Homo sapiens: one gene and its partner. The protein of the gene in region 2 interacts with the protein of the main gene of each other region in a pairwise test. Each region holds a gene or a part of one and is shown on either strand. Other genes may lie near its edges.

Region 1 (12,327 bases), on a different chromosome or scaffold from region 2:
TCCAATTATCTGTGAAGTCACAATAACTTAACTCAGGAAAAAAAAGAAGCCCAAGTCATGGGTCACCTTTGGAGGCTACTAAGGCAGCAACTCTTCATTCATTCTGAAACTGATAAAGGAAAGAATTAAGCATCCATTCTGCCTTTTCAGTGCAGACTGAATCTCAGGGTAACTAAAAAAGCTGACTAGCATTTTCGGAGGCAAAAGTAGGTGGACTGCTTGAGCCCAAGAGTTTGAGACCAGCCTGGGCAATATAGTGAAACTCTGTCTTTACGAAAAAATACAAAAATTAGCCGGATATGGTGGCGTGCACCTGTAGTCTGACTAAAAAAAATGCAATGGTGAAAAGACTCCCTTCCCTATTCAATAAATGTTGCTGGGGTAAGCCATCCCATTACTGGGTATATACCCAAAGGATTATAAATCATGCTGCTATAAAGACACATGCATACGTATGTTTATTGCAGCACTATTCACAATAGCAAACACTTGGAACCAACCCAAATGTCCAACAATGATAGACTGGATTAAGAAAATGTGGCACATATACACCATGGAATACTATGCAGCCATAAAAAATGATGAGTTCATGTCCTTTGTAGGGACACGGATGAAGCTGGAAACCATCATTCTCAGCAAACTATCGCAAGGACAAAAAACCAAACACCGCATGCCCTCACTCATAGGTGGGAACTGAACAATGAGAACACATGGACACAGAAAGGGAAACATCACACACCAGGGACTGTTGTGGGGTGGGGGGAGGGGGGAGGGATAGCATTAGAAGATATACCTAATACTAAGTGACGAGTTAATGGGTGCAGCACACCAACATGGCACATGTATACATATGTAACAAACCTGCACATTGTGCACATGCACCCTAAAACTTAAAGTATAATAATAATAAAATTTAAAAAAAATGTTGCTAGGGTAACTAGCTAGACATGTGCAGAAGAATGAAGCTAGACCCTTACCTTTCACCATATGCAAAAAGTAACTCAAGATGGATTAAAGATTTAAATGTAAGACCTCAAATTATAAAAATTCTAGAATAAAACCTAGGAAATACCCTCCTCGATATTGCCCTTGGCAAAGAATTTTTGGCTAAGTCCTCAAAAGCAACTGCAACAAAAACAAAAATTGACAAGTGGGACCTAATTAAACTAAAGAGCTTCTGCAGAGCAAAAGAAACTACCAACAGAGTAAGCTGACAACCTACAGAATGGGAGAAAATATCTGGAAACTATGCATCTGACAAAGGTCTAACATCCAGCATCTATAAGGAACTTAAATCAACAAGCAATAAATGGGCAAAGGACATGAACAGACATTTCTTAAAAGAAGACATGCAAGCGGCCAACAAACATGAAAAAATGCTCACCATCACTAATCATCAGAGAAATGTAAATCAAAACCATGAGATACCATCTCACACCAGTCAGAATGGCAATTATTAAAAACTCAAAAACCGTCAGATGCTGGTGAGGCTGTAGAGAAAATGGAATGCCTATACACTGTTGATGGGAATGTAAGTTAGTTCAGCCACTGTGGAAAGCAGTTTGAAGATTTCTCAAGGGACTTAAAACAGAACTACCATTTGACCCAGCAATCCTGTTACTGGGTATATACCCAAAGGAAAATAGATCATTATACCAAAAATATACATGCACACGTATGTTCATCACAATGTTATTCACAATAGCAAAGACATGGAATCAACCTGGGTGTCCATCAGTGGTGGACTGAATAAAGAAAATGTGGTACATATACACCATGGAATATTACATAGCCATAAAAACGAATGAAATCATGTCCTGTGCAGCAACATGAAGCTGAAGGCCATAATCCTAAGTGAACTAATGCAAGAACAGAAAACCAAATATTGCATGTTCTCACTTATAACTGGGACCTAAACAATGAGCACACATTGACATAAACCTGGCAAAAATAGACACTGTGGACTACTACAGGGGGAAGGGAAAGAGAGGAGAATGGATTGAAAAGCTTGGGTACTATGCTCACTACCTGGGCACAATATACCCATGTAACAAACCCGCAGGTGTATGCCTATATCCAAATTAAAAGTTGAAATTTTTTTTAAAAGTACTCAATTGTACACTTTAACAGGTGAATTATATAGTATATGAATTATATCTCAATAAAGCTGTTGAAAAAGACTGGGGGGATTGTCATAAGTTTTTTTAATATACTTCAGAGACGTAAACCAAATGTAAAATGTGGACTTGGGTGTATTACAATTAGGATCCAAAGACCCATAGAAAACATTTTTGAGACAACTAGGGAAAACAAAACAAAGGCTAGGTATTAGATGGTATTAGATGATATTCTGATATTCTGTGGGTGTGATCATGGTATGTGGTCATTGTTCAGGAAAAGGGTAAAAACAGATGGATGAAGCGCATGTGGCAAAACCCAGCAGAGTGTTGAGTTTTGGTGACGATCATTTGGAGATTCGCTGTGCTATTCTACTTTATTAAAATTTAATTGAAAAAATAAAGCTCCCCAGAGGATTGTGATGTGCAGTCCCCTTTGGAACCACTGTCCTATATACCAGCTACAAGGACAGGGCATGCCTGGCCCTCCTACCAAGGGCCATGTACACAAATGGAAGCCAGCACGTGACATGCCTTCCTGCCACAGGCTGGGGTTGTGGGACTGCAATAGGGGACACAAGCAATAGCGGGGACATGGACACACGTGAAGATGCCAGGAGGCAGCAGTGCTGCTGGTGGAGGTATTACTAAGTCCCCATTATTTTTTTTTTTAGATGAAGTCTTGCTCCGTCACCCAGGCTGGAGTGCAGTGGCGCAATCTCGGCTCATTGCAAACTCCGCCTCCCGGGTTCACGCCATTCTCCTGCCTCAGCCTCCCGAGTAGCTGGGACTACAGGCGCCTGCCACCACGCCCGGCTAATTTTTTGTATTTTTACTAGAGAAGGGGTTTCACTATGTTAACCAGGATGGTCTCGATCTCCTGACCTCATGATCCGCCCGCCTCAGCCTCCCAAAGTGCTGGGATTACAGGCGTGAGCCACCGCGCCAGGCCAGTCTCCACTATTATAAAGTGATCAGTATGTACATGCTTAACACTTATCACTCAGTCATCACAACCACGTAAGGTGAGTGTGATGTTCCACCTTAGACAGATATAGAAACCCTATGGCTCAAGCCAGCCACCCACTCCTGCCCAGGGTGGCCTTGTACAGAGTGGTCCCACTTTGGGTTAATGGTCTATGCTCCCTTCCTGCCCTCCCTGATTGTCTGGGAAGCCCGAGAGGGTAGGCGATGGTGCAGCTAGCCCCTGGCGGCCCCCCAACCACATCTGGCTCCTATACTTACCAGTGCCCATCATCCTTGGACGTCCCACCTCTACTTCATTCCCCTTCTCCTGGCCCCACCGGTCAAGACAAGGCTCCTCTCCCCTCTCTATCCGGGTGAGGATGTCTGGTTTGGAGATTGCATAATCTGTGCACAGAACAAGAAATGAGGAAGAGCTGGACCCCACATGCCCACAGAGATGCAGAGATGCCCAAAGTACCAAAAGCCAAAGCAAAGACACAGACTGTCCACAGACAACCTGTGGACAGAGGCCCAGATCCTCCCTCCGTGGCCTTACCCAGGGAGACCAGCGTCTCGTAGTTGCCCCTCATCACGTGCTTGTAGAGCTCCTTCTGCCAGTCCTCCAGCTTGCCCCACTCCAGCTCAGAGAAATACACGGCCACATCATCGAAGGTCACGGGCACCTGGAACCATAAGTGTCGCACTCACTCACCCACACGCTCACAGGCTCAGCCCCTCGAGCTCCCCCACCCCAGGGTGTCCCGGTGCTACCTTGGGGGCCTCCCCCTTGCTGCCCGGGGGCAGCCGCAAGATCCAGAAGTTCCTGTTGCGCAGCAAGTTCTCCACATTCTCCAGCCGCCTCTGCAGCAGCCCGTACTCCTGCAGCAAGGTCCCCAGCACGGCCCACTTGCCCTCCAGCTGGTTCCCGAACTCCACAGCTGTCTTCTCGCAGTCGGCCAGCTTCTTCTCGGCTGTCCCCGTGCGCCCCTCCAGAGTCAGCAAGCGGGTCAGGCAGGAATCCACCTTCTTCTCCAAGGCCTGAATGGCGGCCACCACCGTCCACAGTGTGATTTCCGTGGAGTAGAGGTACGAGTTCTTCTCAGCAGCTGGCTGGGGCAAGGGTGTCGAAGGACTCTGGTCCTCTGTGTGCTTGTCTGTCTCGGGGTCCTGCTCACAAGAAGAGAAAAGAGAGATGTTATGAGAATTATACAATCAAAACTTCCACCTCAAAAACACACTTCGGAAATGACACCTGCCATGGTAAAGTCCCATCTGGGCTCCTGAGTTAGCAGCAGACTGGGGGGGAGAGGGAGAGGCTAGGGTATCAGTTAGGAATCCAGCCTAACTGATACAAGAGATAGTGGCTGGACCAACGTGTCAGCAAGTGGGAAAGTGGAAGAAAAACAGCCCCGGCTCCTGTCCTACAGGCTAGCTATGGAGACGGGGCATGCCCCACAGGCTTGAGCAACCACGTGCAGTCTCAAACAAGTGACTCCCCTTCTTGGGTCTCAGTTTCCTCTTCTAAAAATGAAAGGACAAGGCTTTGTGGCACAGAGAACATGACTCCCCAGTGGACAGCCCAGGTGCAACTCAGCTCTGCCACTTACAAGCTGGCCAACTGTGGGCAAGGTGTTTTCAACAGCTTCCAACTTCCCTTCCCTATCTAGAAAATGGAGATAATAATAGTACCTATACAATAGCACTGAGAGAATTAAGAAAAATCTGTGTACAAAGCACTTAGTACAATGTGTAGCACAGCACAGATAATAAACATGAGCCCCATGTTGCAGGGCTAAGATGACACTGACTGCTATGGAATGAATGCTTGTGTCTCCCTCAATATCCATCTGCTGAAGCATTAATCCCCAATATGCCGGTATTTGGAGGTGGAGCTTCTGGGAGGCAATTAGGCCATGAAGGCAGAGCCCTCATAAATAGGATTAGCGCCCTTGTAAGAGGAGACACAAGGGAGATGATCTTGCTGTATGCCACGTGAGGATACAATGAGAAGGCAGCCGTCTGCAAACCAGGAAAAGAGCCCTGCCGGGAACCAAGGCAGCCTGAGCAGACTGAGACAATGACAGTGATTATGGTGATGGTTCCAGCTCAGGGATATGGTATAAATAGTTCATATGGCCTTTTTTTTAACCTCCACCTCTTTTATTCCATTGTCCTTCAGTGCCTTGGAAAAAGCTTCTCAAGTGCCTCAGCTTACCCTGGTATCTGATTCACAAGCCCTCATTGTGCATGCGCAATGGGCACAGTCCTGGTTGGTGCTGCTAAAAGCCTTGTTGGAGAGACAAATCAACATCTCACTCCTCAATTTCATTCATCCTTCATGGTTAAATCACCATCAGGTCCTAACTTCCAAAATTACCTCAAATCCATCCATGTTTCTCCTTCTCCACTGCCAGTGTCTAGTCCAAGTTCCCATCACCTTGCTTGGCCTGGGCCACTGCGGTCCTGCCCACCTGATTTCCCCACTTCCAGCCTTCTCCCCCACTTCCAGCCTTCTCCCCCACTTCCAGCCTTCTCCCCCACTTCCAGCCTTCTCCCCTACTTCCAGGCTTCTCCCCGACAATACACTTTCCACAGAGTAATTGTTAATCTTTTTTTTTTTTTTTTTTTTGAGACGGAGTCTTGCTCTGTCGCCCAGGCTGGGGTACAGTGGCGCAATCTCGGCTCACTGCAACCTCCACCTCCCAAGTTCAAGCGATTCTCCTGCCTCAGCCTCCCAAGTAGCTGGGACTACAGACGCCCGCCACCACACCCAGCTGATTTTTATATTTTCAGTAGAGACAGGCTTTCACCATATTGGCCAGGCTGGTCTCAAACTCCTGACCTTGTGATCCGCCCGCCTCAGCCTCCCAAAGTGCTGGGATTACAGGCGTGAGTCAGTGAGCCACTGCTCCCGGCCTGGTAATCTTTTAAAAACACAAATAGATCATTTCAGTACCCTGCTTAAAACTCTTCAATAGCTTCCCAGTGTACCTGGCATAAGATCTAGACTTCTTCATGGCCCAGCCGACCTCTCTTGACCTTGAGCCATCCAGTTCCTGTCGTGCTCCAGCCATGCCAGCCTCCTGTGGATTCCGAGGACCCACCCGGCCCTCCTCCAACTTCACATCAGCTCTCAATATGCATCCTCTGTATGCCTGAGTCTCTCTCGTTTTTAAGATTCTAGCATAGACAACGCATCCTAGAGATTTTCACTGCCCCTCCCCCTTAGCACTAGTAATCTATAATTGCTTCATTCATTCAATAACAATTACTGAACACCTATCATAGTAAATGTACAGTGAAGATGAAGAAAAAACTGATGTGGTTCTTCCTTCTCCAGGAGAAAAATTCTGTATAGGAATACTTATAAACAACAACAGTGTGATAGGATGGGCTAACAAGAGTCCAGGGCAAATCTGTCCCTTTTGGGGAGTTTTTTGGGATCTCAAGTGCTGCAAGAAGGGAGGAGCAGGTGGACAGGAGTGATCTGAAAGGTAGTGAAGCAGTGAGCCCCAGGCTAGGGGGAGTGGATGATGTCACCTTCTAGGGCCCCCTCTTCCCAGGGAACAGGACTATAAACCTGCAGAATCCTCAACGCTTTTTCTCTCCCTTGCACTCAGGGAACCCAAAAAGAAGCTCAGCACACTCACTAAGAGGAGGGAGAGGAAGTTATACTTTAATAAAAGTATCCAGAAAAATCAAGGTTTCAAAACCTTCACTGAGGTGTATTAATAATAGTAGGTATCATCTATTGAGCCTTTACAAGCGTTTTCCAGTATGTCAAAAATGGCCAAAGGATTATAATCTCCCAATTGGACATACTGCACTATATCAAACCAAGATTCTAAAATCTGCTAAACTGGCCTAACTTATATAGATGAAGATGCCAAAAAAACTGATGTGATTCTTCCTTCTCCAGGAGAAAAATTCTGTATAGGAATACTTATAGTGTATTCTTATGAATAAACTTATTCATATAGATATGTATCTGGACAGATAGATAGATAGATATAAATGAGACAGGCACCTGCGCCTGTAATCCCAGCTACTTGGGATTGGGAGGCTGAGGCAGGAGAATACCTTGAACCCGGGAGGCAGAGGCAGAGGTTGCAGTGAGATGAGATCCCGCCACTACACTCCACCCTGGGTGAGAGTGAGACTGTGTCTAAAAAAAAAATATATATATATATATATATACACACACACACACACACACACACACACACACACACACACGTATATATATATACTTTTTTAATTAAAAAATTTTAAAATGGCCGGGCGCGGTAGCTCTCGTCTGTAATCCCAGCACTTTGGGAGGCCGGGGCGGGCAGATCACGAGGTCAGGGGTTCGAGACCAGCCTGGCCAACATAGTGAAACCCAGTCTCTACCAAAAATAGAAAAATTAGCCAGGCGTGGTAGCAGGCGCCTGTAGTCCCAGCTACTTGGGAGGCTGAGGCAGGAGAATCCCTTGAAGCCGGGAGGCGGAGCTTGCAGTGAGCCGAGATCGTGCCACTGCACTCCATCCAGCATGCGCAACAGAGCGAGACTCCCTCTCAAAAAAAAAAATTAAATAAAATCTGCTACAGTAATCTTTTTTAAAAAAATCTACTATCTCTCTTGTAAACGACACAATCTTTCTCTTTGGCAAAAGTAGAATATGAGGCGTTTTAAAGTGTCTAATTCCAAAATCCCTGCCCCGGCGTGAGGCTCCCGCCTCTAATAGATGCGTGACCCTGGGCCTGTCCCTTCCCATCTCAGCCTCCGCTACTGTCCCGTGGGGCTGGCGGCCCCTGCCCGCCCAGCCTGCTGTAGGGGGGGCCGCGAGGCCTCAAATGGGACAATACTCCTAAGGCGCGGCCTCCTCGTCGCCGAGCGTGACTCTGGGGCCCGGCCTGGCTGAGGCCGCAGATGGGCCGGATCGTCAGCCGCTGACGTCGGGGCCCCGCCCGCCGGGCCTGGCATTTGGGCCGCCCGGTCAATGCCTTCGACGCGGGCTGGGCGATGGGCCGGGGGCAACGAGCGCGGAGGCTGCGCGCAAGGCCCTCTCACCCCGCGGCCTCGCGCGGCCAGAGTCCCTCGCGCGGGCTCACGCGGCGGCGGCCTGGGCCTTCCGGGCGTCCGCGGGGCCGAGGGCGCTTACCCGGGCAGGCGCCGCTTCGGCCATGGCTGCCCGCGTCCCTCGCTGGGTTGCAGTCCCTGGACCCGGCCTGTCGGGCCCGGGGCGGCGCGGCAGCGACGGCGGAAGCGGAGCGGGACCCGCCTAACCTGAGAGCTACTGCCGGGCGGCAGCGAACTGCGTCCCGAGCCACGTGCCCCGCTGGCCCTTTAAAAAAGAGCTGCGCTCGGCGGCCGAGCTTGAGGACGCGCACAGCGCCCCCTGCAGCCCGTAGGACCGCACGCCCGCGGCCGCCGCCCCGCGCCCTCCCGAGGCCTTCAGCGCCCGCGGCGTCCGGGACCCAGGCGCGGCCACCCACCCTCACCCGGGGCGCGGGAGTTGACGCCAGGGCGGGCGTGCCACGGCCTCCAGCGGGGCTACGTCAGGCGTAAGCCACTCCCGGGCCAGCGCGGCGCCCAACCTCTCTCTGCGTCCCACGCGGGAGCCGGGAGGGCTGCGGGAAGGAACCGCGCTGGAAAGTGCGAAACCTCGCGAGGGAAAGCTGCGTGGGGAACGGGGTCGGCCCTCGCCGGGGCTCCAGTCCGGACCGAGACTCTGTTGCAGCGCCTCCCACGCACCACAGAACTGAGTTGGGGAAAGTAAAAAGGATACGTGTGTACCCAGGGAGAAGCCAGGGAAACTTACATGAACGTTTTTAAAGTCTCTTTTAAATTTGACAGAACAAACGTGAAGATGGTAGGATTTTTTTTTTTTTTTTCCTAAGCCTGCCCTCCCCTCCTGAGGACTCTGGGGTCCCTTCCTCCTCCCGGGGCCCGCCTGGTGAAAGTCCTCAGCCACCCACGAGGACCCTTCTGTAGCTTTGGTCCAGGCTGAGATCACAGCAAGTGTGAATCAGTCCATCCCTCATTTAGGCCCTGAGGCATCTTGAATAAACCGCAGGACCCATTTTCCTCGGCCTGTGCTGAGGCATATTGAACTAAATGTGCTGTATGCAGTTGAAGCTTTGTTTTCTGTCTTTTCTGCATTTCCCATTCATCTCACAGTCTTTGTCCAACAAGCTGGCAAACTCTTCCCGCTAGAAATCTGCAGTTTTGTTTCTTTCTGTGTTTGGGTTTGTTTGGGGTTTTTTGGTTTTGGTTTTGTTTTTTCTTTTTTGGGGGGGGGGGGTGAGGGTGAGAAGTTATTTTCACAAATATTTGAGCCAAGCAAAAGCGTGGTCAACTATCAGAAAAAACACAAACTGATATCCTAAGTAAGGTGAACCCCAAAATTTGCGGAAAGGTTAGGACGTGTTACTTTAAGGTAACAAATCAAATAAATATTTGGCATTATTCATTTTGGAAATTCTTGTTGAACTATCCCAATCTAAAACACAAACTGCAAGTATGCACTAAAGACATTAAGAGCATCCCTAGGATCTTATCAGGGATCAGTCCAATCTATTCAGGATTATAAAATACCAGTAAATGGTGACGTTATAGAATAACAGTTAAGGTCCAATGCAAACAGAAAGGGTCAGGAAAATGGGCCAGGAGCCGTGGCTCATGCCTGTAATCCCAGCAGTTTGGGAGGCTGAGGCGGATGGATCACCTGAGGTCAGGAGTTCGAGACCAGCCTGGCCAACATGATGAAACCCCATCTCTACTAATACAAAAAATTAGCTGGGTGTGGTGGTGAGGTACTCTGGAGGCTGAGGCAGGATAATCGCTTGAACCCGGGAAGCAGAGGTTGCAGTAAGCCGAGATCATGCCATTGCACTCCAGCCTGGGCAACAAGAGCAAAACCCCATCTCAAAAAAAAAAAAAAAGAAAAAGAAAGAAAGAAAGGGTCAGGAAAATGGGCTGGAGACAAAAATGCTAGGATTTAATGAGCTCTGTTGAGGAAAGAGTGCTATAATGTTTGACAGCTAGTCTTCGTTTTTTAGAAAAAAAGTTTCTCTAAGTCAGTGGTACTCAAACTTCAGTGTGCATCATGTTCACTGAGGGTTCTTGTTAAAAATACAGGATGCTAGGCACAAACCTCAACATTTCTAGGTCTGAAACAGGAGGGGATGAAAGTGATGCGAATTTGCAATTCTAACTAGTTCCCAAGAAATGCTGATTCTATTGGTCTGGTGATCACAGTTCGAAAACCTTGGCACTGTTTATCAGGGTCCCACAGCTACCTCCCATTCCCATGCTCAGATTTTATAAATATATTTAATAAACGAACACTTTGCACCATAATGTGGTTTCTGAGCAGACCAGCCGGGGTGTCAAGCCAGCTCTGATATAAATTAAAATTACATGGTGGCTTTTTTTTTTTAAGACGGAGTTTCGCTCTTGTTGCCCAAGATGAAGTGCAATGGCACGATCTCGGCTCACTGCAACCTCCACCTCCCAGGTTCAAGAGATTCTCCTGCCTCAGCCTCCCGAGTAGCTGGGATTACAGGTTCCTGCCACCATGCCAGGCTAATTTTTAGTATTTTTAGTAGAGACGGGGTTTCACCATGTTGGCCAGGCTGGTCTCAAACTCCTGACCTCAGGAGATCCACCCACCTCGGCCTCCAAAAGTGCCGGGATTACAGGCATCAGCCACCACGCTCAGCCTACATTCATCTTTAATTGTTAATCTGTCTCTTGTGAGTTTGTTTTTTGGGGGATCAGATTTCCAGGACCTGATTATCTCTGGGTGAACTGACAACATCCAGTGGAGGCCCAGTCCGTGGAGTAACAAGGGTGACTCCACCTGCAGAAGGTAGGGTTGTCACAATTTGAGGGCCACCAAAGTAGTACCCAGGGTCACTCAACAAGAGGTCAGCACACTCAAGTGCCATTGTCCCCACCAGAACATCCTCAGCCAAGAGATAGTGGCAGGTCAGAGACAGAATTCCTGTGGCTCCCTCATCCTCCAAGCCAGGAATGTAATTTAGATTAGGAGGTGGACCCACACAGAATTATAAAGATGTTAGGAACGGAAGCATTAGTAGAGGGAGACCAGAAGTACAGCCAAATCCCACTTCCTCCATAGAAGCCTTCTCTATTTCAGACAACACCCAGCTCTCTATTCTGTGAACACCCATTATACTTTCTCATTCAGCAAACATTTGCTGAGCACCTATGTGCCAAGCACCTGTGCTGAGAGCTGTGGAGGCTGATAGGAGTAAGACATGGTCCCTCCTGAGGCCAGGCGCGGTGGCTCACGCCTGTAATCCCAGCACTTTGGGAGGCCGAGGCGGGCGGATCACGAGCTCAGGAGATCAAGACCATCCTGGCTAACACGATGAAACCCCGTCTCTACTAAAAATACAAAAAATTAGCCGGGCGTGGTGGTAGGCGCCTGTAGTCCCAGCTACTTGGGAGGCTGAGGCAGGAGAATGGCCTGAACCCAGGAGGCGGAGCTTGCAGTGAGCTGAGATGGCGCCACTGCACTCCAGCCTGGGCGACAGAGCAAGGCTCCGTCTCAAAAAAAAAAAAAAAAAAAAAAAAATGGTCCCTCCATTCCCACAGCATCACATCCTGTGACTGTTTCTTGGTCTTATCTATTGTTCCCTTCCCACTGCAGCTGCACCCAATCAGGTAGGTCCTCACTGGCTCTTCCTTGATCTCACTTGAAACCTTCTAACATATCCCAAACCTCACACCCCCCAAAAAGCACAGTATAATTCTTATTAGTATTCCCAAATCACAGCTAGAATCAGGTCACTCTTTTGCTCAAAATTCTTCAGCTCCCCATTATCAACCGAATAAAATCCAGACTCCTTGAAGCCTGACCCAACTCTTAACACCCACTACTCTCCTTCTCACACTCCACCCTCCCGAAATTGGATGAACTCCTCTTCTGTACATGTCCCATAATGTCTCCTGACTTGGTCATGTCACCTCCATTTAGAATGTCCTTCCTCCCATCCTTAAAAGGCCAGTTCAAATACCACCTATCACGAAGTCTTCCCTAATGTCTCACATCTAAAATAATTGTTCTCTGAATGCTTAAAGCCTTTTACCCTCACTTATCTGAAGACATTACTATTCTATCTTATATTCCCTTAGTAGCCTGTAAGTCCAAGAGCAAGATTTATCCCTGTACCCCTCTGTAGAATTCTGCACAGGGAGGATACTCAGATATTTGTGAGTGAACAAACTCTA
Region 2 (11,653 bases):
CAGATAGCCTAAAGTAACTGAAGAATCACAAAAGAAGTGATATTTAAATGGCCTGTTCCTGCCTTAACTGATGACATTCCACCACAAAAGAAGTTAAAATGGCCAGTCCTTACCTTAACTGGTGACACTACCTTGTGAAATTCCTTCTCCTGGCTCATCCTGGCTCAAAAAGCTCCCCCACTGAGCACCTTGTGACCCCCACCCCTGCCCACCAGAGAACAACCCCCCTTTGACTGTAATTTTCCTTTACCTACCCAAATCTTGTAAAACAGCCCCACCCCTATCTCCCTTGGCTGACTCTTTTCGGACTCAGCCCGCCTGCACCCAGGTGAAACAGCCTTGTTGCTCACACAAAGCCTGTTTGGTGGTCTCTTCACAAGGATGCAAATGAAACTCTGTATCATTTTTTATTGTGTTTATTTGATATTCTCTTTTCTTCTTTATTAGTCTAGCTAGCAGTCTATTTCCTTAATTTTTTCAAAAAAAAAAAAAGCCCCTGGATTCAGATTATTTGAAAAGTTTTTTGTGTCTCTGTCTCCTTCAGTTCCACTCTGATGTTACTTTTTTCTTGTCTTCTGCTAGCTCAATCATCCCAGGTCAACATCCCAGGTCAATTCCTGCTGTGCTGGCAGCAGGAATTTCAAGCCAGTGATTCATAGCTTGCTGGGCTCCATGGGAGTGGGACCTGCTGAGCGAGACTACTTGGCTCCCTGGCTTCAGCCTCCTTTCCAGGTAAGTGAACGGTTCTGACTCTCTGGGGTTCCAGGCGCCACCAGGGGATGAAAAAAAAATTTCTGCAGCTGGCTCGGTGTCTGCCCGAACAGCCGCCCAGTTTTGTGCTTGAAACCCAGGGCCCTGGTGGTGTAGGCTCACCATGGAATCTCCTGGTTTGCGGATTGCAAAAGCTATGGGAAAAGCATAGTATCTGGGTGGGATAGCACAGTCCCTCATGGCTTCCCTTGGCTGGGAAAGGGAGGCCTCCTGCTCCTTGCACTTCCCGGGTAAGGTGATGCCCCACCTTGCTTATGCTCGCCCTCCATGGGCTGCACCCACTGTCTAACCAGTCGCAATGAGATAAACAGGATATCTCAGTTGGAAATGCAGAAATCACCCGCCTTCTGCATAGGTCTCACTGGGAGCTGCAGACTGGAGCTGTTCCTATTCGACCATCTTGCCAGAACCCCCAACAAGAATATTTTTAAAACAAAGTAAATACCACCATACTCCTGGAAAAAAAAAATACACTTTTGCTGTCTGCCAAGAAGCAGCAGCATGGGGTTCACAAATAGTTGGATTCCTAGTAAAGATTCTGCCCAGCTGAAAATTGGCTTTGAAAATAATGCGACCAGAAACTTTGGGAGAACAGAACTTTAAGTGGCTCAGATAGCCTTCTTAGAGTTTGGATTACCATTGGTTGTTCTCCTAAAGTGATAAGAAGTTTCTAGAGGAACAGTGTGGAGATCAAAATGGCCTATGATCACCAGAATGCTATATATCCAGCCCCTATGCCCTTTGTGCTGTACTTGCCTATGTGGGTTATAAGGACCCAAGTCCTACAGAGTCAGGAATCACCCTTCCCTTTAAAATCTTCCTTCTTTGACAAAGCCCCGCTCCTACATGACTGCAGGAAATCCAGTTCTTTCCCAAAATATTCCAGAGGATACCAAAGGTAGCTTACATTTTCAACCAACATGGTGCCTCTCTGGTCTGCTTGTTTCCTATGGACCACCACTGGTCCTGAGCCTCTTCTCTCCATAGCTACAAACTTTTTGGGTACCACAAACCATACTTCTCCTTTTATTCCCCAAGAACAGCGAATAACAAAGCTTGAAGATAACAAAAGGGGAGTATGTGACAATAACTTAAAACTGGGAACTAGAGAGCAGCTTCTTTCTACTCCTGGTGTCACCCAAGGGTCCCTTCTGGCTTTTCCCCTGCCGCCTCTGCCCTGCTGCCCCTATGGTGGGGTCCATTCCCTTTTTTTCAGTTGGCATCTCTGGCTGACATGTTCTCCACCCCTAGGCAGCAAAACCAGATTCCTTTATGGCTCTAAAATCTCTGCAGAGGTGTTTGTTTCCTAAAGTTATCTTTTCTATCATTAAGCAAAATAACTGGATTGTGCGCAGCCCCCTGCTGGATCATGTGTCACTAGTACTGGGCCTCCCTACCATTAAGGAACCCAGCACTTTCAAGTTCTCTGATTCTCCATGTGACATGCCCAAGTGAACCAATACCACCACTGCCCCAATCACCCACCCATTCCCAAAAAGTGAAAAATAAGCACACAAACAAGTGACTAGTGTTTAATCTCAGAAACATTTGCATTCAGAGTACGTTCCCTTAGAATTTTCTCCTCTCCACTCCATGAGGAGTGGGCATGTGCTTTATTATATCAACAAGACTAAGAAGCCGCACCCGAGTGGTCCCACTCAAAAAAGAGATTTCTGTTTCTACCTCAAAATGCAGAAACCATTACAGATTAAAAGAGAAACACACACACACACTTTGAGAAACTCGCCCTTCCTCATCTTCAAAGTGTGGGGTATGCATTCCAGATCTCTCAGCCTGATGGACAGCTTGGAAGTGGAAGGGACCAATGTCCAGCAAGTGGACTTTGCCCCATGTCCATTGTGCCTTGTGTCTTCCTAGCCAACTCAGAACTCCTCACATCCAGCCCCCAGACTACCGCTCATGGGCTCAGGCAAAGGTGGGAGTAGCCAGGGTTTGGCACTTGGGAGACACTCAAAAATATTTTTTGGACAAACAAGTGAATGTGAGCCCTGAAACTTTCTAGAGAGTCTCTGTCCCATTGGGTTCAAGCCAGTAAAAAGCCAGAGAAGTGTCTTTCTGTCCCAAACATAAGCAAGAGATGGATGAGTCCTCTGTGCAGAAGTTACTAAACACTCCTTGGTGTGGAGGAGTTTTTTGTTAATGAAACAACATCCAGTTTGTTTGATGAAAGATTAATATGGTCAATGAGCTCAAAGTCATCTTCAGATTAAAGCATTCACTAAAACATGGCTGGGTTAGTTTGCAGCTAAAAGGAATAAATATACTTTATAAAATATGAGTTCCTGGTACTCAGGTTCTGCTTCCAAGGAAGTCTCAACCTAGACCATATAATGAATAGAGACTGAAGGAAGAGGTATTGGGAACTCAACTGATTCTCAGGCAGGGGAGTGTGAGAAGAAATGGGGAAGAGGAACTAGGGATATCAGTTTCATCCTGGTCATGATTCACAGAAATGAGTGCAGAGGGAAGACAAAGTCAGATGCCCAGACTGCAGTGTTGGGGAACAGGAGGCCATTGAGTTTAGATTGCTAAGAAAAGGATGGAGGGTAAAAACATTGAAGAGTTTCAGTGAGAGTCTATTTTCTCCAAATAGGAGAAAAGCTTATGGAGATACCAACAGACCTTATCTGAAACACTCTGAGGGTTCCATCTTGCTCTTTTCCACATTCTTCATATTTTCTAGGTATCTCTGGAGGCATAAGAGAACACTTTTCTAGCTTTTTTGGGTGGTTTCAGCTACCAGCTATCACTACAATCCCCAGCCATAATTTCAGATCTTCCATCCTGTCAACTTTCTTCAAAACACAAAAATAACTCCTTTCTCTCCCTCACTCACACAGTAGAGTTCAATTGATTAAACTTATCAAATTATTTTAAATATTCATCTGAAATCAGTGAGACTAGAAACTTCACATTTTAGGGTAATTATGAGGTACAAAAGCAAGATAAATTGTCTTATCGATGATACTTTTGATAGAAGATTTTTAAACAATAAGGCATAAAGTTGATGTATAATTTTAAAAAGAAAATATTTCTTGGGATATGTGTTTCTAGATTAAGGTACCATGGGCCCTGAATAACGAATCTCAGTTTTTCTTAAGGTCCTCCTCCTCTGAGCTACACTGTGGGTCGAAAAGGGCAGGATTATCATAAATGGAAAGAAGCTAGAGACATTTTAGTTAAATAAAAAGAACATCTGGAAAAAGACATCTTCGTTACTGGAAATATTCAAGCAGAGGTTTCTGGGATGTTTCTGATGGCACTCAAGCATCGGAGACCAAGGTCAGCCTAAGACACAAGCAAGGTCCCATCCTACAAAGAGAGTGAAATTAGATCCGTATATGAAATGCCTAGCACAGTGCCTGGCGCATAAGAGATACACACTAGATACCAGATCCTTCCCATCCTGAGAGTCTGTGGGTCTATGCTCGTATATATTGGATGTATTTCTGGAAGGGTAATTGGATACATTGTAGATTCTTCCAGAAGTTCACAATTTTCTTAATCGGAGCCATTGAGAGAAGGCAAGGGAAGGAAGCATGTTCTTTTTGCTTGTGTCAGTAACTCTTCCTCTAGCTGGAGTTTTCATCACCTTCAGGCAGTTATTGGTTTGGGCTTTATGCTATCCACTACAGCTGAAATAACTGCTCCAGCAGCCTTCGCTCCTTCCATCAGGGCGTGCTCTACCTGCAAAGCACATCAGTTCACAGGACAATCAGTACCAATCCTAGGCTTGCACCCTCCCCTACCTCCACCCCACCATACCCATTCAGCAACCAGCCTGTCTGGAGTCTATTCCCAAGAGAAGAAGCAGTCCATGCTATCTTATATTTTCAAAACTCCTAGAGTGACAAGAGACCAAGAAAAGCCAGGATTGTTGGAGACAGACAACCCCTTCCTCCCTCTGTGCCATTTGGCCCAGGGTCTGCTTCCAGTGTGGGGCTCAGAGGCAAAGGATCTCACAGCACCACAGCCACTGAGGCCCTCATTCTACAAACAGGGGATCCAAGAGCCAGGGAGCGGAACTCACTTGGACAGAGCCATACAGTGAATTCATGTCCAAACTTAGCTCTTGGGTTCTTGGGCCTCATGACTCCTAGGCCCAAGCTTCTTCAGAGGACTTCTTGTAATGCCCTCAGTCCTTGGGGTCTTCATGTGCAAATTCTCACGGGACGGGAGGTTTCTCACACCAGGGCCCACCAAGCCCCGGACACTAGAGAAAAGCCTCACAAGAATGGAGTGCAGGCTGGAGAGGATGCAGAGCAGAGAGGAGGAAGGTGCAGAAAGTAAAGGGCACAGCAGGGAGGCTGCCAATGGTCACTGAGGATGGGCTGGCAAAAGCAGAGACTAACATTGGAATGTGAGCCCAATCTGCTTAGACAACAGAAGAAACATAGAAAAAAAATAGAATAATTATGTTCTTCTTTTAATCCTTAATTTTTTCCATCTCTTTAAAGGGGGATAATAGGTTGGGTGTGGTGGCTCACGCCTGTAATCCCAGCACTTTGGGAGGCTGAGGCGTGTGGGTCACGAGGTCAAGAGATTGAGACCATCCTGACCAACATGGTGAAACCCCATCTCTACTAAAAATACAAAAATTAGCTGGGCATGGTGGCGTGCACCTGGAGTCCCAGCTACTCGGGAGGCTGAAGCAGGAGAACCGCTTGAACCTGGGAGGCAGAGGTTGCAGTGAGCCGAGATCACGCCATCGCACTCCAGTCTGGGTGACAGAGCAAGACTCTGTCTCAAAAAAAAAGGGGAGTAGTGATAATAAATGCTTTCTCTGCTCATCTCATGGAGTTTTAGTAAGGATCACCTATTAACATGAATAGCCCAAGTTTTCACATACATTTAGGATTCAAAGTTATTTCACATGCACTGAACTACATGAATTTATTACTTCTCTATATGGGAGGAAGTGACAGAGCCAAATGCAGTATAGGCCAGGCAGGTAATGTGAGTGAGGCAGGTGGGTGACATACCTACCCCTTATCCCCTGCAAAGCCACAGCATGTCCCTACAGAGTGTCAGCAAGTAGGAATGCCAGCCCAGTGGCCTGATCAATTGTATGTTAAAAAGAAAGCTGAGGGCCAGGCTCAGTGGCTCATGCCTGTAATCTAGCACTTTGGGAGGCCGAGGCGGGTGGATCACCTGAGGTCAGGCATTCAAGACCAGCCTGGCCAACATGGCAAAACCCCATTTCTACTCAAAATACAAAAATTAGCCAGACGTGGTGGCGCACACCTAGTAATCCCAGCTACTTGGGAGACTGAGGCAGGAGAATCGCTTGAACCCAGGAGGCGGAGGTTGCAGTGAGCCGAGATTGCACTACTGCACTCCAACTTGGGCGACAGAGCAAAACTCTGTCTCAAAAAAAAGAGAGAGAGAGAGAAGCTGAGAACCTACATCTTTTTATATAAAATTTCTATATTTTTAAATATTGGCAAGTAATTCAAACAAAAAGTGTGTGTGTGTGTGTGTGTGTGTGTGTGTGTGTGTGTGTGTATCCAAGATGTGGCCCACAAAGTACTAGGTTGCAATTTTATCAACAGAGTATCTGCTTCTGCTTATCCCTGCTTTGTTAAGGAAGAAATGGTCTTTGGCCAGTCACGGTGGCTTACACCTGTAATCCCAGCACTTTGGGAGGTCGAAGTGGAGGATCACTTGAGCCCAGGAGTTCAAGACCAGCCTGGGCAACATAGCAAAACCACCTCTCAACAAAAAAATTAAAATTAACTGGGTGTGGTGATGCACACCTGAAGTCCCAGCTATTCAGGAGGCTAAGGCAGGAGGACGGCCTGAGCCCAGGAGGTTGTGGCTGCAATGAGCCATGATTATGTCATTACACTCCAGCCTAGGTGACAGAGTGAGATCCTGTCTCCAAAGAAAGAGGGGAAAAAAAGAAAAGAAAGAAAAGCTTTCAGAAATATACTGATTTGACCAAGGATACCCCTCTAGTTAATAGTTGAGCTGGGGCTCCAATCGCTGGTCTTACTATTAGCCCAGTGCCTTTTCTACTCCTCCCTGGGTTAATAAAGGTGAAAATACCTCCTGAACCATAAAGTCCTGCAGAAATAGAAGGCCCTACTAGTATAACGAATAATATAATGAAAGCCCTGATTACCATTCTGATCACTAATGAAATGACAAACCCCAAGAAAGCTCTGGAAGAAGCCATCATCAGAGCAAATGGGGTCACACCTGCTGGCTCCGGGGTACGCCATATCTGAGGCCATTGACAAAGTGCTCACAGTTCCCTTCAATCAGGCTGTACTGCACGATCTTGTTGACCATCTTTTTTGTACGCTGGATGATCTTGTCCACCGGCAAGGGCAGGTACGTCCCATCTAGCTTGTTATTGACCTTCCAGGAGCAGCCATGCAGCACATCCTCCAGACGACTGTATTTCACCACGGCCCGATTGCTAAAGATGGAAGTAATGCTGCCCACCTCAAACTCCTCACCTGGAGACCAAAGACAAACAAAGGTTGGGAAATACAAGGAGTAGCAAAGCAGAGCACAGTCTAAGACTCTGAGTAAGCTGCTTCCCCTGGAGTCTCATTGGCACCATCAGTAGAAGGGTGGCAGAAGAGGGGAAGTTGGAATCAAAGAACCGCAGAGAATCAACTTTCCTGAGAAGCCCTTTGCCCTGCGCCTCACTCCCTGCTCTCAACCCGCACAGGAGTCTCTTTCTCATTAAACTCTTGGAGCACCTTCCCATGTGGTCCCAGACTGTGTTGCACTGACCTACCCAAGTCCTAGGATTTGAGTCTCATTTCCTGAGAAGACTTCAGTAATCTTCACAAACATGTAAAGAGCACTCTCTATGTAAGTGTCAGCTCATGGGTAAAAGGCTATCACATACATGATTATGGTGGTTCCATGTCACGCCTCCCTCTGGGCTGCCACAGGGACACAGGGGAAGCCAGCCAAGCAGGGCTCTGAATGGCACCTGCTCCTGCCAGCTTCCACCTACAGCCACTTGACTGACCTCTACTCAAATACGGGGATTCTCATTAAGGGTATGTTTGAAAACAGGGTTCCACAGCTTTGAAAAAAGAAATGTTTGAAAGGTGCTACATTATCATATTCAGCCCTGAGATGAGACAGAGACTGAAAGAGGGTCAGGAACCTGCCCAAAGCTGGGTGGGTAGTCATTTAAAGTAGCACTGCTACAACCATGTTGATATGCGAATGTGTATACCCTTCCCTTTATAAGTTGTCCAAGGGCAAGAAATGCTCCATGATCTTTTCTTACAAATTTGAAGAAAATCTGCTGATTTTATAAAAGCTGGCAATAGATAATTCAGCATTCAGGAGCAGAAATGGCAGAATTCATTTTCAGAGAGCAAGATAGGGGTGGGGGAAGACATAACTGATAAGTATCTCTGTGGTTGTACAAGAGGGAAACTCCTGGACTTAGTCTGGAAAGAAGAGATGAATTTCTACATTCTTTGAGTAGGTTCTGAGACAAGAAGTGGGAAGGGTATGAGTGGATGGGGCAGAGAAGAGAGGCAATGAGAAAGGGGCTCTGCTCCATGGGAACATCCCTGCATGGTGAGAGACTGGGCCAGAGGAAGAGGACAGGACACAGGGATGACAGCTGAGAACAAGTTAGGACCAAAGGCCTTTGGTATAGTGCCCTTCTGTAATTCAACTTTGAACTGGCAATACCTGCACAGGAGACAGCATTCAAAGTGCATTCAATGGTATTCAACAGGGTCTACCTACCCCTTCCTCTCCCAAACCCCAACCCTTATCAGGCCTCATCTCCTGAGATAACCACTGTGACCAGCAGTTCTAGATACCCAATTTTAAGTTGTTTCCCATTTTGCTGTACTCTTCCTCTACTATCATCACCTCCTCCCCCATCAAATCTCCACTAAGATTTAATTAACACAAATTGAATCTCAGCCATATGTTAAGCAGCTGTGAGAAATGAAAAGAGGGCTGTATCTACATTTAGGGTGAAACAGCAAGGAGCATGTTGGAACAGCAGCGAGACAAGGTGAGGACGAAGGTGCCAAAGGTGATCAAGAAGCCAGATGCAGTGTCTGAGGACTATAGAAAACAAATGACGATCAGAACATGTGAGCATCTGCACCCTCCTTGGGGAATCCTCAGAAAGATGAGGATAGATGCTCAACTTTTGTCAATACAAAATGGAGCTCAAGTTCTAAAATGTGTGTATTTAAACAAAGGGCCCTCTAGGAGGTCAGGGAACTTGGGCCACGCTCTTTACACTTGTATCACTCTTAGGCCTGGACACTCATTGGTTTTTGGTGAACAGAGACCAAGCTCTGTCACACAGTAAGCAAAGGTCCAGTCATGCTTCAAGGGGTCCCATTGCTAAAGAATGGCAGTAACTGAGGAACACAGTAATTAACTGTGCTTCTATTTACTTTGCTAACTTCAATATCAGTATTTCAATAGACTATTCACTCTTACTTGGGGGAGCCAGATGGACCACGCAATCATCTTCTACATAGATGGCCCAGTGCTCATAGCCAATTCGAAAAATCTCAATCAGGTCTCCAGGTCTGGGTCTTGGTTTTCCCTATAATGGAAAAATAAAAGATAAATGGCACATGCTCAAGGAACTCCAGAGACCTTGTTTTAGGATCAGGGACAGCTCAGCCTAAAGATCCCCTCAGTGTGGTTCATCACTTCACAGAAACCCAAGCTAAAGAAATTTCTCTTCACACTGAGGACCAAAGAAGTCCCCTCCTCTCCTACCCCACTCACATTACTAAAGCCATCAAGGATACCCGTGCCAGTTATCAATGTATTGCCTCTCAGCTGTGAATGTATCCTCCAATATATACCCTGTGATAGATGACTAAACTTGTTTTAAGCATTTCTTCCTTAAAGCAAGTAAGATGTTAAACCTTCTCAGTAAAGGGTGCTGGCTTTCTCTTGTACTGCAAGACAAAGGGGTTCTCCTGCAGTTTCTGGCTGGGGTGGGCAGGATGATGGTCAGTAGTGTGGGTGTGTGGACATCTAGTAGAGTTCTACCTCAGACCCAGGATCCTCAAGGCCTCCTGCCCCTGCTGGCACCCTGATTCCCTCTGCAGGGCCCCCACGTGACCCACCTGAAGCCCAGAGGGTGCCCCCATCCTCTGCACACCCACACCACCAGTTGCTAATAGCCACTTCAGTCCTGCTTGCCCAGCAAATGCAAACTTCTCTATTATCGTGTGTGTGTGTGTGTGTGTGTGTGTGTGTGTGTGTGTGTGTGAGAGAGAGAGAGAGACAGGTAGAGAGAGAATGAGAATATACATGAATAGGTAGGCATAGAGTTGTACATAAGCATCCATCTTTTTAAAAAATATTTGACCAGAGCTCCAGGTTGCACCTTCACTGCTGTGTTATCATCTCCTAGAGACCCAGCTTCTGTGGCCCTGTGACCTGCAGGTCTTTGGAAATCCATAGCTAAGATGTTAGGACTCCGCTGGAAGCCTAGAAATGGTATTGCTGTCTCTAAGCCAGACCTGATCAACTACCTGGAGCAAAGAAAAGAGCCCTGGAATATGGAGAGACACAAGATGGTAGCGAAACACCCAGTTACATGTTCTCATTTCACCCAAGACCTTTGGCCAAAACAGGGTATAAAAGATTCATTCCCAAAAGTGATACTAAAAAGATATGGAAAATGTGAACATGAGAATTTACAATTAAGGAAAGGCTGTAAAAGTGTGGGTGAGTGCAAAGTGCACAAAGGAGGTCATAATGGACTTAATTAATGTCATTAATGTCGTTAATTTGTCAACTACTCAGAGCAAAATATTTTAATGTAATACATATGTGAAAGTCTCTAGCAAATTTTCGAATTCAAATAGACATAAGACATGGCATACTGGAGAGAAACCTTTCAAATGTAAAGAATACGGCAAATTGGCCAGGTGCAGTGGCTCACACTTTTAATACTAGCATTTTGGGAGGCCAAGGTGAGTGGATCACCTGAGGTCAGGAGTTCAAGACCAGCCTGACCAGCATGGTGAAACCCCATCTCCACTAAAAATACAAAAAAATTAGCCAGGCTTGGTGGCACGCACCTACAGTTCCAGCTATTCAGGAGGCTGAGGCAGGAGAATAGCTTGAACCCAGGAGGTGGAAGTTGCAGTGAGCTAAGATCGCGCCATTGCACTTCAGCCTGGGTGACAGAGCAAGACTCCCATCTCAAAAAAAAAAAAAGAATGTGGCAAATTATTTCACATGCTCTCACACCTAACTCAACATCAGAGAAGTCATACTAGACAGAATTCTTACAGATGTGAATAATGTGGCAAAGCCTTTAACTGGTCTTCAAACCTTAATGAACATAAGAGAATTCACAGTAGAGAGAAACCCTATAAATGTAAAGGATGTGACAAAGCCTTTTAAGTGCATCTCAAGCCTTAGTAAACATAAGATAATTCGTGCTGGAGAAAAACCCTACAAATGCAAAGAATGTGGTAAAGCTTTTAACCAGTCTTCAACTCTTATTATACATAAGAGATTCATACTGGAGAGAAACCCTATGATTGAATATGGCAAAGCATTTTAAAGGTCCGTAAACATAAGATAATTCATACCGGAGATAAACTCTACAAATCTGAAAAATGTGGAAAAGCTTTTAACCACACCTCATACTTTTCTAAACATAAAATAAGTTATACTGGTGAGAAATCCTAGAAATGTGAAGAATGTGGCAAAGCCTTTAAATGGATGTCACACCTTACTGTATGTAAGATAATTCATACTAAAGAAAACCCCTACAAATATAAATAATGTGGCAAAACTTTTAATTAATGTTCATGCCTTATTGCACACGAAAGCATTTATACTTTAGAAAAATTGTACAAATATAAAGAATGTGGAA

The links.
Region 1: the proteins of PLAAT5 (region 2) and ZNF783 interact in binary tests that used the Homo sapiens proteins (3 or more experiments, as listed by UniProt).

The regions. Positions count from the first base shown.
Region 1 is NC_000007.14:149,258,258-149,270,584, reverse strand, and holds the start of ZNF783 (zinc finger protein 783), read right to left. Parts: upstream 8,390-12,327; 5' UTR 8,252-8,389; coding exon 8,228-8,251; intron 8,114-8,227; exon of another isoform or gene 6,075-8,113; intron 5,557-6,074; exon of another isoform or gene 5,518-5,556; coding exon of another isoform or gene 5,461-5,517; intron 4,251-5,460; coding exon 3,855-4,250; intron 3,767-3,854; coding exon 3,640-3,766; intron 3,489-3,639; coding exon 3,363-3,488; intron 1-3,362. UniProt on the Homo sapiens protein: May be involved in transcriptional regulation.
Region 2 is NC_000011.10:63,459,117-63,470,769, forward strand, and holds the end of PLAAT5 (phospholipase A and acyltransferase 5), read right to left. Parts: intron 9,350-11,653; coding exon 9,241-9,349; intron 7,257-9,240; coding exon 6,994-7,256; intron 4,480-6,993; coding exon 4,387-4,479; 3' UTR 2,288-4,386; downstream 1-2,287. UniProt on the Homo sapiens protein: Exhibits both phospholipase A1/2 and acyltransferase activities. Shows phospholipase A1 (PLA1) and A2 (PLA2) activity, catalyzing the calcium-independent release of fatty acids from the sn-1 or sn-2 position of glycerophospholipids.